Homo sapiens: one gene and its partner. The protein of the gene in region 1 interacts with the protein of each later gene in a pairwise test. Each region holds a gene or a part of one and is shown in the gene's direction. Other genes may lie near its edges.

Evidence for each region.
Region 2: the proteins of OSTC (region 1) and EDA interact in binary tests that used the Homo sapiens proteins (3 or more experiments, as listed by UniProt).

Annotation. Positions count from the first base shown.
Region 1 is NC_000004.12:108,646,317-108,653,623, forward strand, and holds the start of OSTC (oligosaccharyltransferase complex subunit OSTC), read left to right. Parts: upstream 1-4,282; 5' UTR 4,283-4,339; coding exon 4,340-4,478; intron 4,479-7,307. UniProt on the Homo sapiens protein: Subunit of STT3A-containing oligosaccharyl transferase (OST-A) complex that catalyzes the initial transfer of a defined glycan (Glc(3)Man(9)GlcNAc(2) in eukaryotes) from the lipid carrier dolichol-pyrophosphate to an asparagine residue within an Asn-X-Ser/Thr consensus motif in nascent polypeptide chains, the first step in protein N-glycosylation.
Region 2 is NC_000023.11:69,955,088-69,962,114, forward strand, and holds part of EDA (ectodysplasin-A), read left to right. Parts: intron 1-1,939; coding exon 1,940-2,045; intron 2,046-7,027. UniProt on the Homo sapiens protein: Cytokine which is involved in epithelial-mesenchymal signaling during morphogenesis of ectodermal organs. Functions as a ligand activating the DEATH-domain containing receptors EDAR and EDA2R. May also play a role in cell adhesion.

The DNA of each region.
Region 1 (7,307 bases):
ACTGGATCTACTAAGTTGTATGGCCCAAGTGGCAGAGCAGTTTGCTATTGAAGAACCTTTGCTTATTCAGGATCCCAATCAAAACTAGCAGCTTATTGGATTGCTCAGCAAATACATCAAAATGGTATGACCAAATGAAGTATATGTTGCAAGTGGTCCATCCATTGAGCATTGTGCAGCAAATATCCTTTATTTTGAAAGAGCTTTCTATGTATTACAGATCACTTAACCCCTAGACATTTCCCTGAGGAGACCCTGACATTTTATTGTGCTTATTTTTCCATCCTCTGGCATGCATTTGTCCTAACAATATATCTACTGTAGTTGCTACTTAGATCACTGTCTAATGAGCATATTATCAATGCAATGTCATAGTGTGATATTCTGTGAATGAGAAGGCAATCAAAGTTCCTGCAAATCAGATTATGACATAGAGCTGGGGAATTGATATAATTCTGAAATGGAGGTGTGTTGCTGACTCTGCCAGTTGAAAGCAAACTTCTTCTGATGATCTTTACCATAGGCATAAGTAGAAACAGCATTTGCCAGAACAGCTAACAGGTGCCACGAGATGTGTTGATGTGCTCCAGCGACAAAACCACAAGTGGAATAGCAGCAGCAGTTGGAGTCACCACATGATTAAATTTACAATAATCCACTGTTGTTCTCCAAGGTCCATCTTTCTTTTGCAAGGGCCAAGTTAATTGAGCGAAATGTGGCAGAAATCACTACTCAGCATCTTTCAAGTCTTTGATAGCACATCAGCCACTGAAGTCACTTTAGATTTATTATTTCTGTAGGTAAAAGCAGTTCTACTGGTTACACTTAGACTTTCCTGCCATAAAAGCCCTCATAATATGGGTCAGGAAACCAATATGGTGATTTTTCCATTTGCTGAGTACATTTATCCCAATTGTACATTCTAGAACTCAGTGATCTCACTACCTCTGGAAGGAGAACTAAAATTAGAATAGTGATAATGGGAAACTCGTTCCATATGTGTCTCTAATATTTGAATAAATTAATTATTTTACATTGGGCAGGTTCCTATGTTTTACTTGCATAATTTTATTTCTTATTTTCATTATTTATTTGTTTATTCATTTATTTTTAGAGATGGAGTTTCTCTCTTGTTGCCCAGGCTGGAGTGCAATGGCACGATCTCGGCTCACTGCAACGTCCGCCACTCGGGTTCAAGCCATTCTCCTGCCTCAGCCTTGCAAGTAGCTGGGATTAGAGGCATACACCACCATGCCCAGCTAATTTTGTATTTTTTAGTAAAGATGGGGTTTCATCATGTTAGTCAGGCTGGGTTCGAACTGCTGACCTCAGGTGAGGAGGCCTCCCAAAGTGCTGGGATTACAGGCATGAGCCACCGTGCCCAGCCATTACTTGCATATAATTTTAAAAACAACCTTCAAAATGTAAAATAACTACAACAATAACACCAAACCCCACAATATTGCATTAGAAAGAGTTTTTATTTAGATCATGAGACATAATAGTGCTTCGTACTCATGCTTATACAGAACCTAGCGCGAAAGAACATAATTCAAGACACTGTCAACCAAACTGCAAAATGTCTTCATAAATAAAAATCCAGGTTAATATTAGTATTATTATCCTACAAAAAACAAAGCTACTAATTTCCTCTCCAACACATATTTAAATAAACAGAAATCAACAATATTTGTAGCCTTTGTAATTCTAGTTTGTTTAGAATTTAGTTAAAAACTTATTTGTGGAGCTCTCCCTCTCTTTTGGCTGGCAGAACCATTTCTGACTTCAAGGCTTTTTATTAAAATATTCTACAATGAACACAGAAAGCTTGGTAGATACCATCTTTACACTTTTTTCTTCTTTGAATATATATTTGCTTGTGCACAGTAAGAATTATTAACATTTGCTTTTATATGTAGCTTAAGATGACAGCTCTACTGCATATTATATTGTAAACTGTGTTTCTCTCAACATTTTTCCTTCTTCATCTATAAATAGAAAACCACTGAATGATTGATTATATGTTTATTTAAGGGCATGCTCTAATGCCCACTGCTATATTCATTATTTCTTTGGTTTTCAGTTACAGAGTTTATGTTATGTTTAAATAGAACATTTTTCTGTAGGAATTGTGGGTTAGGACATGGATGATAACAGATATGCATATCTTACTCATGAAAGGTCTCTTTTATACGTGGCTTATAGAATATTACAAACTCATGTTGAAAAATATTTCAAAGCTTAAGAGGTTAAAAAATAATAATGAATTGGTTCCTGGAGCAAACTTACTTTTTGGAAAGTGATAGTAATAATTTAACATATAGATGAATGCAGTGTGTTCTGACTTGGCAGTTTTATTATTTATGAAATTAATTTTTCATTTAAAAATTATATATTAATAATTTATATGTTTTCCACAATGTAGGTAGAAATTATGTGTCCCTAGTATACACAGGAAGAAGGATAAGTATATAAACGTATACCATTTTAAACGTCTTAAATCTATTTACTTCTACAGCAATTGCCTTTTAGGTCTCATCCAGTCACAGACTATACTACACTTTTTGAGTTTATTTCCCTTCCCAGGAGCCACTTTTGTCATATGTAAAGCAGTTATACTAGTATTTACCTAACAGAATTGTCATGAAGAGTATATAAGCACAAATGTAAATCACTTAACATAGTACCTGCCAAGCAGTGGTTAATTAATGTTAGATTCCTTTTTAAGCTATAAAGGAAATTTAAAAACCTTTAATCCCTATGTTTTTCCAAAGCAAAATGTTTTATTTTTATTTTTTTCTTCATACCAAAGCAAAATATTTTAATTGTTCCAAAGTGTTCCTTACTTATAAAACTGTGGGAATTTCAGAAACATTCTGCTTTACAGTGCCCAGAGAAACTTCCTACATATAAACGCTGGTTTTGGTGTAAATGCATTCATTATTGGTGTTATCATTGGCCTTTACATAACCTAAGATTCGTGTGGCTCCGTTAAGACATAGGCAATATGACTCTGGGAGAGACTCTCACTAATGAACAGTAAGGGCAGCAAGCCTCAACTGTACTTAGAATTGGATACTACAATGTTTTGATAGTATTTTCATTACCGTCTTCAAGCAATTTCTTAACAATTGAGTTGTTAGCTAATTAGAAGTGCAGAACCAATACATGGCATCCTGTAAAAATAACCACGGGCTTAGTAACAAGCAAATAAAAAAATATAAAAACATTGGCTCTATAATGTGTCAATATGCTCTGGACTTATGTAATCAGTGACTCTTAACTCTTGCTCCAAAAGGAAGTTAACATTTGTAGAGTCTTAAAAGATTATATAAAAAAGAAAAGCAAAACAGAAAACAAAAAATCTTTTAGACCTTCTAGTCCATCCCTAATGACTAATTCTCCATCATATATTTTCATCTATTTGGATTGTAAATGTTGCCCAGACCAGAGATGGCGGTGGTTCACACTAGGGTGTCAGTGGTGGAATGGTGAGGGGCAGATGAATTGGAGATATTTTGGTAGTACAGCCAAAGAGACCTACTAATATTTTGGATGCAGAAGGTTAGTAAGGAGAGAAATCCAGACGACTTTAAGATTTTTGGCCAGAGGGATTTTACCTTTTAGCGACATACAGATGACCAAGGGAAGAGCAAAGTTGAGAGGATGAGTTATTCAAAATAGTATTATGGTCACGCCAAGCTATCAGCATTAAGGCATCCCTGTAGAGATGTCCTGTTGACATTTGTGATCCAGGCTGGATGTTTAAAAAAAATTGGTAACATATTACTTTAGCAACTATTATTAATTCTTATTATTACCACGACTACATCGGGAAGTAAAAGCTCAGCAGCCTCCGGCTTTTCCTAACCCTTGAAAAAACCTCTAATATAAAAGGCATTTATATCCAAAAGTTCCCATTCATCTCCCGCTCTGGGAACCGGGAGCGCCCCCTGTCCAATCAGCTTTCAAATCCCCTGCGTCAGCGAGTGGGCGGGGCTCACCTAGATTCCTTGGCCTCCGCTTCTCCGGCTTGGCCACGTTAGAAGTCCCGCAGGTCCTTGAAGGTACACAAATCACCTATATATCCATTAGAAAAATGTAGAGTACATTATCACAATGTAAGTTTAATTAGATTAAATAATTTACAACACTTTATTCATATCATTTATTTGTTTTATTTAGTTTCTTATTTTCTTCTATGAGTATAGTAACCACCTCCGAGCTTTACGGATCTGCGGGTCCTTTCCTCGCGCACGCGCACTTGTTAGGGAGGGCGGGCCTGTTTCCGGGAGGCGCGTGGGGCTTGAGGCCGAGAACGGCCCTTGCTGCCACCAACATGGAGACTTTGTACCGTGTCCCGTTCTTAGTGCTCGAATGTCCCAACCTGAAGCTGAAGAAGCCGCCCTGGTTGCACATGCCGTCGGCCATGACTGTGTATGCTCTGGTGGTGGTGTCTTACTTCCTCATCACCGGAGGTAACTCGGGCTGTCGGGCCCGAGAGGCTGAGGAGCGGAGAACTGACCCGCCCCGGGAGGCGCGTCTGTTCCGCTGACTCTCAGCCCCGGGGGAAGCATAGCTCTGCTTTGGATCTTTTCTGAGGGTGGAGGGGAGTTCTGGGGTCCGAAGTGTTAACGTCCAAGTTTATTCGCCTTCACGCCCTGTCTTAAGAGAATTCGTGTTCTCACTCCCATTGCCTTTCTTCTCCTTCTAGCCCTCCCATCCCAGGGATCCGAGTCAAATATATTTTTCAAGGCCAAATTGTTGCTCTTTTTGTTGCTTGCCATACGTTGTTTGATAAATGTCCTGGGAAAGCCTAATTTGGCAAACTCCGTTTCCATGGTTGGTTGTTTGATAAAGGTCCTGGGAAGGTCTAATTTGGCCAACTCCGCTTCCATGGTTGGTCAAGAGCTTGTGGGACTTTTAAACTTATCTTTGTCCTGGAATCTTGGAAGAGACTTGACAATCTTTAGTTTTGTTGGCTCAAACCTAGGGTTCTGTGTTGCCTTTTGCATGACCTACAATAAATATCAATGGAATTTTCTGAAATCACAGGTTTGATAAATATTTGAGATTGGAGATGAGATTTGCAGACGATACTGTATTTCAGTGGGCAGAAGTTGAGAATTAAAAAAATAAGATAAATAGCATTACTATTAAACGCTTCTGAATTGTCTATCATCTTATTCTGTCCTTTTCAAATAGAAAATTGCAAAGGGGCGTTGCCTTATGTACTGGTGAGTTGGCAATCCGGCTAGTCTTTTCAGAGCCACTACCCTTTCAGGCCACAGTTCCAAGATTTACTTAGAACTGTGCTACTGTGTACATTTAGATTTGGGGAAGTGGTGTACTTAACTTGGAAATTATAAAATTAATTTAGATTTTGGGAAGTGGTGTACTTAACCTGGAAATTATAAAATTAAAGCTACGGATTTGGGATAGCAAAAGTAGTTCTACTTTTAAGGGAGTGGCCATATAATTGTTATTTTCATAGATGTTTTGTGAGAATAGTTGGCACTGAAGGGGGAGGATTCAAACTGAGAGAGCTGAGTTCTAGAAAGCACCTTTGAATTTACCTCCTTCCCCCAATCTAGAATAGTGAGAATTAACTTACGTTCATTTAAATAAATTACATTTAAATATTTGAGTTACATTTAAATACTTATTTGGTAACAAGATACTATCTAGCATTGCATTAGCATTAACCATTAACATTTGCTCATCAAGTTAATAGCTACTGTACTGAATAAACAAAATTTAAAATGCATGTGGCTTTTAAAAATAATAGACTTTTAAAAATAAATAATATAGAATAATTCAGTATTATTATTGAGTGCTCGCTTCGGCAGCACATATACTAAAATTGGAATGATAGGGAGAAGATTACCATGGCCCCTGTGCAAGAATGACTCGCAAATTCGTGAAGCGTTCCATATTTTTGCACAGTTCACGAAGGTCGTTGGACAAAAAAAAAGTCATTATTCAATAATAATAATGAATAATGCTAGTTTCTTTCCTGTAACCCTTACTTCCCTTGGAGTCGGATTCTTTGCGAGAAGCCTCAGTTTTCTTTGTGGCCCTCTTTTTTCTCCTGTTGATTATTGTAATGGGGAGATTCTTTGTCCCAACCATTGGGGGAAAGTGGAAAGGTTGCTTTTTAGTGGCCAGGTCTATGAGGTATCTTGTATGATGAATTGGTTTTGCCACTGGAAGGGAAGAAGTCTCTTCTAAAAACTGAGTGCACCTTTATAAATAAACTATTTGTTGCTGACAAATAGTCAGCAAATAGATACTGAGTCCCGTTAAGTTTCAGGCACTAGGTACTGGAGATAATAGAACAAAACATAAGGACCCTGACCTCCTGAAGCTTATAATGTCATAGATGAGACATATTAAATGTCACTTAATTTTTTTGTCCGTTAAAAATGTTCACAAAAACAGGCCAGGCGCAGTGGCTCACGCCTGTAATCCAACACTTTGGGAGCCTGAGCCAGTTGGATCATTTGAGCCCAGGAGTTCGAGGCCAGCCTGGGCAACATGGCGAAACCCTGTCTCTACTGAAAATACAAAAAATTAACCAGGCGTGGTGGTACACGCCTGTAGTCCCAGCTACTTGTGAGGCTGAGGCAGGAGAATTGCTTGTACCCGGGAGGTGAAGGTTGCAGTGAGCCGAGATGGTGCCACTGCACTCCAGCCTGGGCAACAGAGCAAGGCCCTGTTTCAGAAACAAAAAACAAACCCCAAAATTAGCTGAGCCTGGTGGCGCACGCCTGTAGTCCCAAGTAGCTGGGACTATGGTGCAGGAGTTTGAAGTGGGAGGATCGCCTGAGCCTGGGAAGCTGAGGCTGCAGTAAGCTGTGATGGCACCACTGCACTCCAGCCAGGGTGACAGAGCAAGACCCGACCCTCTCTCAAAAAATAAAAACAAACAAACAATGGTTATAAATACAGTGAAAGAAAAGAACAAGAGGTTTTTGAGAAACTAAAGGGAGTTGGAAGCATCATCTGGATTGGATTCGATATGATTCCTGAGGAAATGATATGTAAGCCAAAATCTGAAGAGTTCGGGGAAAGGATATGCTAGGCAGAGGGAAACGTAGGGCAAATGTGAGACCAAAAGACCAATTAGGTGGCCTTTGTAGTTGACTTAGACTATACAAGGTTTATGGTAGTGGAGATTAGGATAATATAATGAAAGATATGTTGGAAGTAGATTCAGTAGGTCTTGAATTCACTGGGTGTAGGGGAAGAATGAAGTGGGAAGGAATCTTACAGGTTTCTGGTTTGAGCTCCTGAATAGATGGAAG
Region 2 (7,027 bases), on another chromosome or scaffold:
AGTTGCAAATGATTGAGATTTTATTGTAAACAGCAGTTTAGTTTTATACTATTATTAGTACTTAGCTTATTTATATTGTGAGTTAAGTAACTTTCTGTGGGCTTATCAGGAGAACTAGCCAAACTTTATTATGTTGATTGTATGAGAAAATGCATTTTTACATTCCAATCAAGTGACTCAAAAATACTACTCAGTTGAACCATGTGAAATTGTTGATTGATATTCAACCATTTTTGACAAAAATGGCAGTTTATTTTGAAATGCAGTCCTGTTGACAAGATGGAAATTACCTACACATTGATTTATTAATTTTATATTTAATACATTCATGTATCCTTCAAGATGCTAATCCTACACCTTAAGGATATTGGGTAAATCACAGAATTTTGAAGAAAATTTGTGTGGAATATTGGGGCTTTCTTGGGTCCAACCCATTTTTTTTCCACTTAATCAGAGATGGAGCAGACATGAGGACTCTGGAATTTTTTATTTTTTGAACTGATAATAGAATGAAAATGCAGATTCATTTGTTCTATTTTAGGCCCCAAATTAACCATTCTATTTTGAAGATTAAGTTTAATAATAATAGTAATAGCAAACATTTATTAAGTGCATGCTACATGCTAAGTACTGTTCTAACTCTGCAACTGTTTTATCTGCAAAGTACTATTATTATCCCTACTTACTGATGAGGAAACTAAAGTTTAAGTAACTTGTTCCAGGTTATACAGCTAGTAAGTGGCAGAGTTGGCATTAGAATCACTCAGTCCTACTACCGTGTTTACTGTTTACCTCAAGCACATGGTTTTACCACAGTAAAGCACTCATGCTAAAAGATTATGATTCAATTCAGCAAATATATATTTAAGCTATGATTATTAGTGAAGCCAGACCCATTCACATATGAAACATATTGTATTATTATCAGAGACCATTATAAGACAGTAGAGGACCAGGTACCAAAATTAGTCTTATAGACCACAAGTGCTATAGGAATCTCAGAAGAGGAGAAAATAATTGTGTACTTTGTCATGACTAACTCCCAGAAGAGCATTGACAAATAGTACCTCAGTATTGGATGCACAGCATTTTGGGAACAAACCAAAATTACATCATAAATAGCAATGTGGCAAAATCATGAATGTGTAATAATGAAGTCCAATGGGGAGCAGCAAATTCAAGGTTTTCTTTCTTTCTTTCTTTCTTTCTTTCTTTCTTTCTTTCTCTTTCTCTTTCTCTTTCTCTTTCTTTCTTCTTTTTTTTTTTTTTTTTTTACAGAGTTTTGCTCTTGTTGCCCAGGCTGGAGTGCAGTGGTGCGACCTCAGCTCACTGCAACCTCTGCCTCCCAGGTTCAGGCGATTCTCCTACCTCAGCCTCCCCAGTAGCTGGGATTATAGGCACCCCCCACCACCACACCCGGCTAATTTTGTATTTTTAGTAGAGATGGGGTTTCACCATGTTGGTCAGGCTGGTTTCGAACTCCTGACCTCAGGTGATCCGCCCACCTCGGCCTCCCAAAGTGCTGGGATTACAGGCGTGAGCCACTGCTCCCAGCCAAATTCAAGGTTTTCTGTTCAATTTTCTGTTCAACTCAAATTCTGAGTGAGCATCCTCAGTATGTGTGGGAAGTTAGAAATTTGTGGCTAGGCTCTCTGAATCCCAGAAATATATGAAGAAATGGGACCTGATGGATTATTTATTAGATATTCAGGGTGGAAGAAATGGGATTCAGAAATTAACCAAAATGTCATGCCTACATGATTGGAATAATAATGGTATCAAAAATAAAATGGTTTGTACAGTGGAGGGGAAGATGGGCTCAGGCTTTAGACACATCAAACTTAAGGTACAGGTAGACTGTCTATGGAAAGCTGGTTTTTTATGTTGGCTATGACTGAGTGGGGTCAACCTTTGACTAATGTACTTGTAATTTTTACAGATGGCCCTATTGAATTTCTTCTTCCCTGATGAAAAGCCATACTCTGAAGAAGAAAGTAGGCGTGTTCGCCGCAATAAAAGAAGCAAAAGCAATGAAGGAGCAGATGGTAAGTCTACTCAGTTGATCCTTTATCACTTCTGAATTATTTGTTAGTAAAAGTATCCTTTTAAGAACTACCTTCTTGGTAGGGCATGGTGGCTCACGCCTGTAATCCTAGCACTTTGGGAGGCCCACGCGGGCAGATCACTTGAGGTGAGGAATTCAAAACCAGCCTGGCCAACATGGTGAAACCCTGTCTCTACTAAAAATACAAAAAAAATTAGCCGGGCCTAGTCCCAGCTGCTTGGGAGACTAAGGCAGGAGAATCGCTTGAAACTGGGAGGTAGAGGTTGCAGTGAGCTGAGACTGTGCCACTGCACTCCAGCCTGGGTGACAGTGCGAGACTCCATCTCAAAAAAAAAAAAACAAAAAAAAAAAACCACTACCTTTTCAAGTGTGCTTCATCATCTTATATACTGTCCACCACAGACCCAAGGTCATAGACTATTTCTGCAGCCTAACCTACCAATCAGTCCTTTAACATAGAACTAACTATACAAGGATCCTCCCTCCTCCAACTCCAGATACCTTCAGTCCTTTCTCAGTATGTCTGAGAGCCATGATAGCATTTGTATCTCTCAAAATCACCCTCTATAAGGGCCTCATCTCTCCCGGAGATGTCCCACACCTATTAAGGTCAACAGGAGGATTTGGTTCTATTCTTGGAATTGACAGTGTTGTACCCTGCTAGCACTTACATGATGTGTTAATTCCAATGATAATTTTATCAATGTTGGTATCCACTACCATGCCCAAATCTGAACTAGACCTTCTAGAACTAGTTTATAAGTTTCTTGTGGGCAGAGATTTCATTTCTCTTTGTATAAGCCTAGAATCTAGCCTACTATCTGGAACATTGTTGGTGATTGTTATGTAAGTCGATGATGTTGACTGCCCCTTCAGCTAGGCAGTGATGTATCAATGGAAACCATCCCTGTTCTGGGTGTAATAGCTTTGAGTTAACTAGCAATGCATTCTGTGGGGCATAACAAAATGTTGAGCTAGCTCCTGGGCAGGGTCTTTGAATTGCTCTGATATTTCAGCATCACTCTGTCAATTGACATAATGCTACCCCTTTGGGCACAGGGGTTTGTAGAATACATAGCTCTGGGCTGCTGCAAAGGCATCTGGATTCAAAGACAGCATGTGTCTGGCTACATCTGCCAATAATATGTGTCTGGAGGGTTACAAAGCAATATGACTTTATACAGATGAAAATGAAAATTTTAAACTGACATTTGTTGATGTGAGTAAGGGCCACTGATGGAAGCAGTTTTAGAGGGCGGAAGCTATTAAAGAGATGGAGCCAGGACTTTGTCAGTAGGGGCAATAAGAAGTATAACTGGCTGAAATCTGAGAAAGAGCTCAGAACAAGGACCCCATAATAATACCAAAAAAAAAAAAAAAAAGAGCCAGAGCAGTAAGATAGGGTTTTCTAGTCAGTGGAGGTGGCAGCAGCATTGAGCCTTTGAATGGAGAACTGGACCAGTGGGGCCATTCTCTAGAGAAGTCATTTTGCATACAATTGATGACCAATTCAAGCCTAAGAAATGCAGTCCATGTAGTAAAAGTTACCCATTATTCACCTACTACTTGTAGCCAGTTTCCCAGAAGTCTTCTGGCTATGTGGAAGCAGGGAGCTAAGAAGCATGGACCCTTTCCTCTCCTAATCATCTCACCCTCTGATACATGTAAGTCTCTCCACCTTCAGCTTTTCCCCTGAGGCTACTCCCACAACCATCAAACTTTTCATAATCCCTGGTTGCAAAGGAAGAGAGGAGACAGGTGGTAAGAGCAATATCACCTTCTATAGTGGGCGTGGTCTTCCCTCCCTCTCTGAGTGGTAAGTCTAATGGCTTCTAAGGTTTACCTCTTCATCTAACCTCCGAAGTTTTCTCTTAAAGAAAATAATTTCCTCCTTTCCCTAAAACTACTTTATCCAAATTCAGCTACCAACGTCTCTGATACCGATCTTCCTTAGAATGTTTATTCTGTCCTAATACAAAACAGTTTTCTCTCTGGTCAAGGTCAAAGCCTCTCATTAATTTTTAGCACTTCTTATATACTTCCCTCCTGATCTGATACTCTAGTCAGTCACTAGACTCTAGTCTCTTGGTGCCAATGCCAAGTTTCTCATGCAGTCCAGGCATTTTTCTTTAATCAGTATAGCTTGGAGGAATCCAAGAGTCCCTTAGAGTTAGGAGTATAGAATGCCTGGGGGTCCTTGAATTTTATTAGATTTCCAACTTTTCACCTGGTGGTCTGTAGAACCATTTCTTTAGATGTGGCAGATGCTCCAATGAGTTAAAGAGTGGTAAGTCAATCCAAATCTCCTTTTCCTTTGAACCATTCTTGTTACTCTGATGAGCGTATACTATATTTATTCAATACACTCATCAAATATTTACTAAGTAAATACAGCAGTTTATATAGTACTTGAATAAACATTCAATAAGGATTTTTTTTAATATTCCCACTGCCTAGAAACAGACTTGGCACCTAGTAGACCCTCAATAAATATGTCCTGTTGCCCTCAAAGTGATTTACTTCCAGCATAAAGAGGCAGACAATAAATAAAGTTGGTTAAATTTGATAAGTGGTATGAAGAAAAATATAGCTGAGCAACAGGGAGAGAGAGTGATGGGGTATGCTGTAAGATGATCAAGGAAGGTACTCTGATAAGGGAACATTTGGGAAGAGACCTGAATGAAATGAAGTAAGAGCTATGCAAATGTCTGGGGAAAAAAGAAGCAGAAAATTCAAAGGCTCTGAAGCAGAAGAATGTTTGGTATGTTCCAGAAAGATCAGTGTGGCTGGGAGCAGAGTAAGAAGAGGAAGAGGGAAGGAGATGAGTTAAGAAAGCAAAATCCAATCTAGAGCCTTGTTGGCCAAGGTAAGGACTCTGGCTTTTATTCTGCATGAAATGGAGGACCACTGGAGGATTTTGAGCAGAGGAATGACAGGATCTGATGTATGTTTTAACAGCATTCCTCTGGCTGCTGTATTGAAAATAGGTGCAGGAAGAAAGGATACAAGCAGGAAGAATCTTTAGGAGAGTATTACAATAATCCAGGCAAGAGATGATGGTGGCTTAGACCAGGATGGAAGCAGTGTGGGTGGGGAGAAGTGGTCAGATTTTAGAGAGATTTTGAAGGAATGGCTGAAGGATTTTTCAGATTGATTAGATAAGGGATATGACAGACAGAGAAGAGGCATCAGTGACCCCAGGGTTTTGGACTTCAGGAACTAAACAGGTAGAATTGCCATTTCTGAGATGAGGAAGCAAAGGAGAGAAGCAGTGTAGAGGAATATGGGGAAAGAGTTTAGTTAGGCTTGTTAAATTTGAGGTAGCTATTAAACAGCCAAGTGGATATATAAGTCTACACTAAACATCACTGTGTATCATGAAAATAAGATGACTCTCTTTTGTACAAAGGACTTGTCATTGAAGAAGTGAGTCAGTCTGGAAACTGCTCTGAACAGAATAAGAGGTAGGATGGGATAGGTAAATCATAGTGGGGTGAGTTATGGCCAAAAAAAAAATCTTATCAGGTGTTGATTATAAATTCACAAATTACTTGATATGTTATAATAAAAATTTAACTATCTAAGCTCAGGTTTGCCTCACAAGTGTCAAAGAACAAGTCATTTACCTTGAAGAGTTAAGAACATGGCAGAAGTTCGTGACCAGCCTGGGCAACATGGTGAAACCCCGTCTCTACCAAAAATACAAAAAAAAAAAAAATAGCGGGGCACTGTGGCACACACCTGTAGTCCCAGCTACTCAGGAGGCTGAGGTAGGAGAATTGCTTGAGCCCAAGAGGCAGAGGTTGCAGTGAGCCAAGATCGTGCCACTGCACTTCAGCCTAGGCAACAGAGTGAAACTCCATCCAAAAAAAGAAAAAAAAAGAAAGAAAGAAAGAAAGAAAAAGAAAGTCTAGACCCTACTTCATTTGTTTGGTCATTCATCATTTAACAAATGTTTTTTACAGGTGCCCGCCACAACACCCAGCTAATTTTTGTATTTTTAGTAGAGACTGGGTTTCACTATGTTGGCCAGGCTGGTCTCGAACTGCTGACGTTGAGTGATCCGCCCACCTCAGCCTCCCAAAGTGCTGGGATTACAGGGGTAAGCCACTGCATCCAGCCTAGACTTTCTTTCTAGGAACTATAGATATTAAGCTTAATGATCTCCACAAATCCCTGTGAGAGAAAAAAATTTTTATAAACAGTTCATTAACTCTTGGAAACGGAAGGGATGTAGTGATCCTTAGGAGCTGCATAGGTTCACCAAGAACAAATCAGGCTGCAGAAGCCTATTTTCCTGTTTTCATCAGACTATTAAACTAGTTGATTAGAGGCATAGCATACACATAGTCTATCTTGCCTTTTAAAAAGAAAGTCAGTGGCAATATCCAGGGTATATACAATCTTTCTGACTCACCATTCAAGAATGACTAGGTTCATCTCAGTTTCTCCATTCAAATTACTTTATAAATGAAAGCATTGGCTAGCTAAGCAGGAGTCTCAAACACATGGTTAGTTTCAACTCTTAGAAAAGAAGTGAATTTCGTTTTCTTTACTACATTTCTTCCTTGAATTCACTGACTTGAGTTGGCCAGAAGTATTTCAGATCGTTTAAGTTTATTCGTACTAATTATGTGAGGCCTTTGGTTGTTGTTCTTCTTCAAAGAAAGTATGATACCTTCACTGTGGGTGTTGAGTCACAACAGTTCTAGAAATCTGTGCCAGGATTTCTTGCTGTGTCTTATCTTTGTGATGTGTTTCTGAAGTAATAATAGCTCCAGGTGGCTTGTTTGGTCATCTCTTGCACAGCACTCCAGAAATCCACAGAACTTTATTTTCTAGTTAGAATGAAATGTAGAATGTATTTGGGAGGTCATGAGGCCTTAGAATCAGGTAAAATGAATCCAGAATTCCCAAGGAGGTAGTTTCCATATTTCACAAATATTATTGTAAAAACATCTG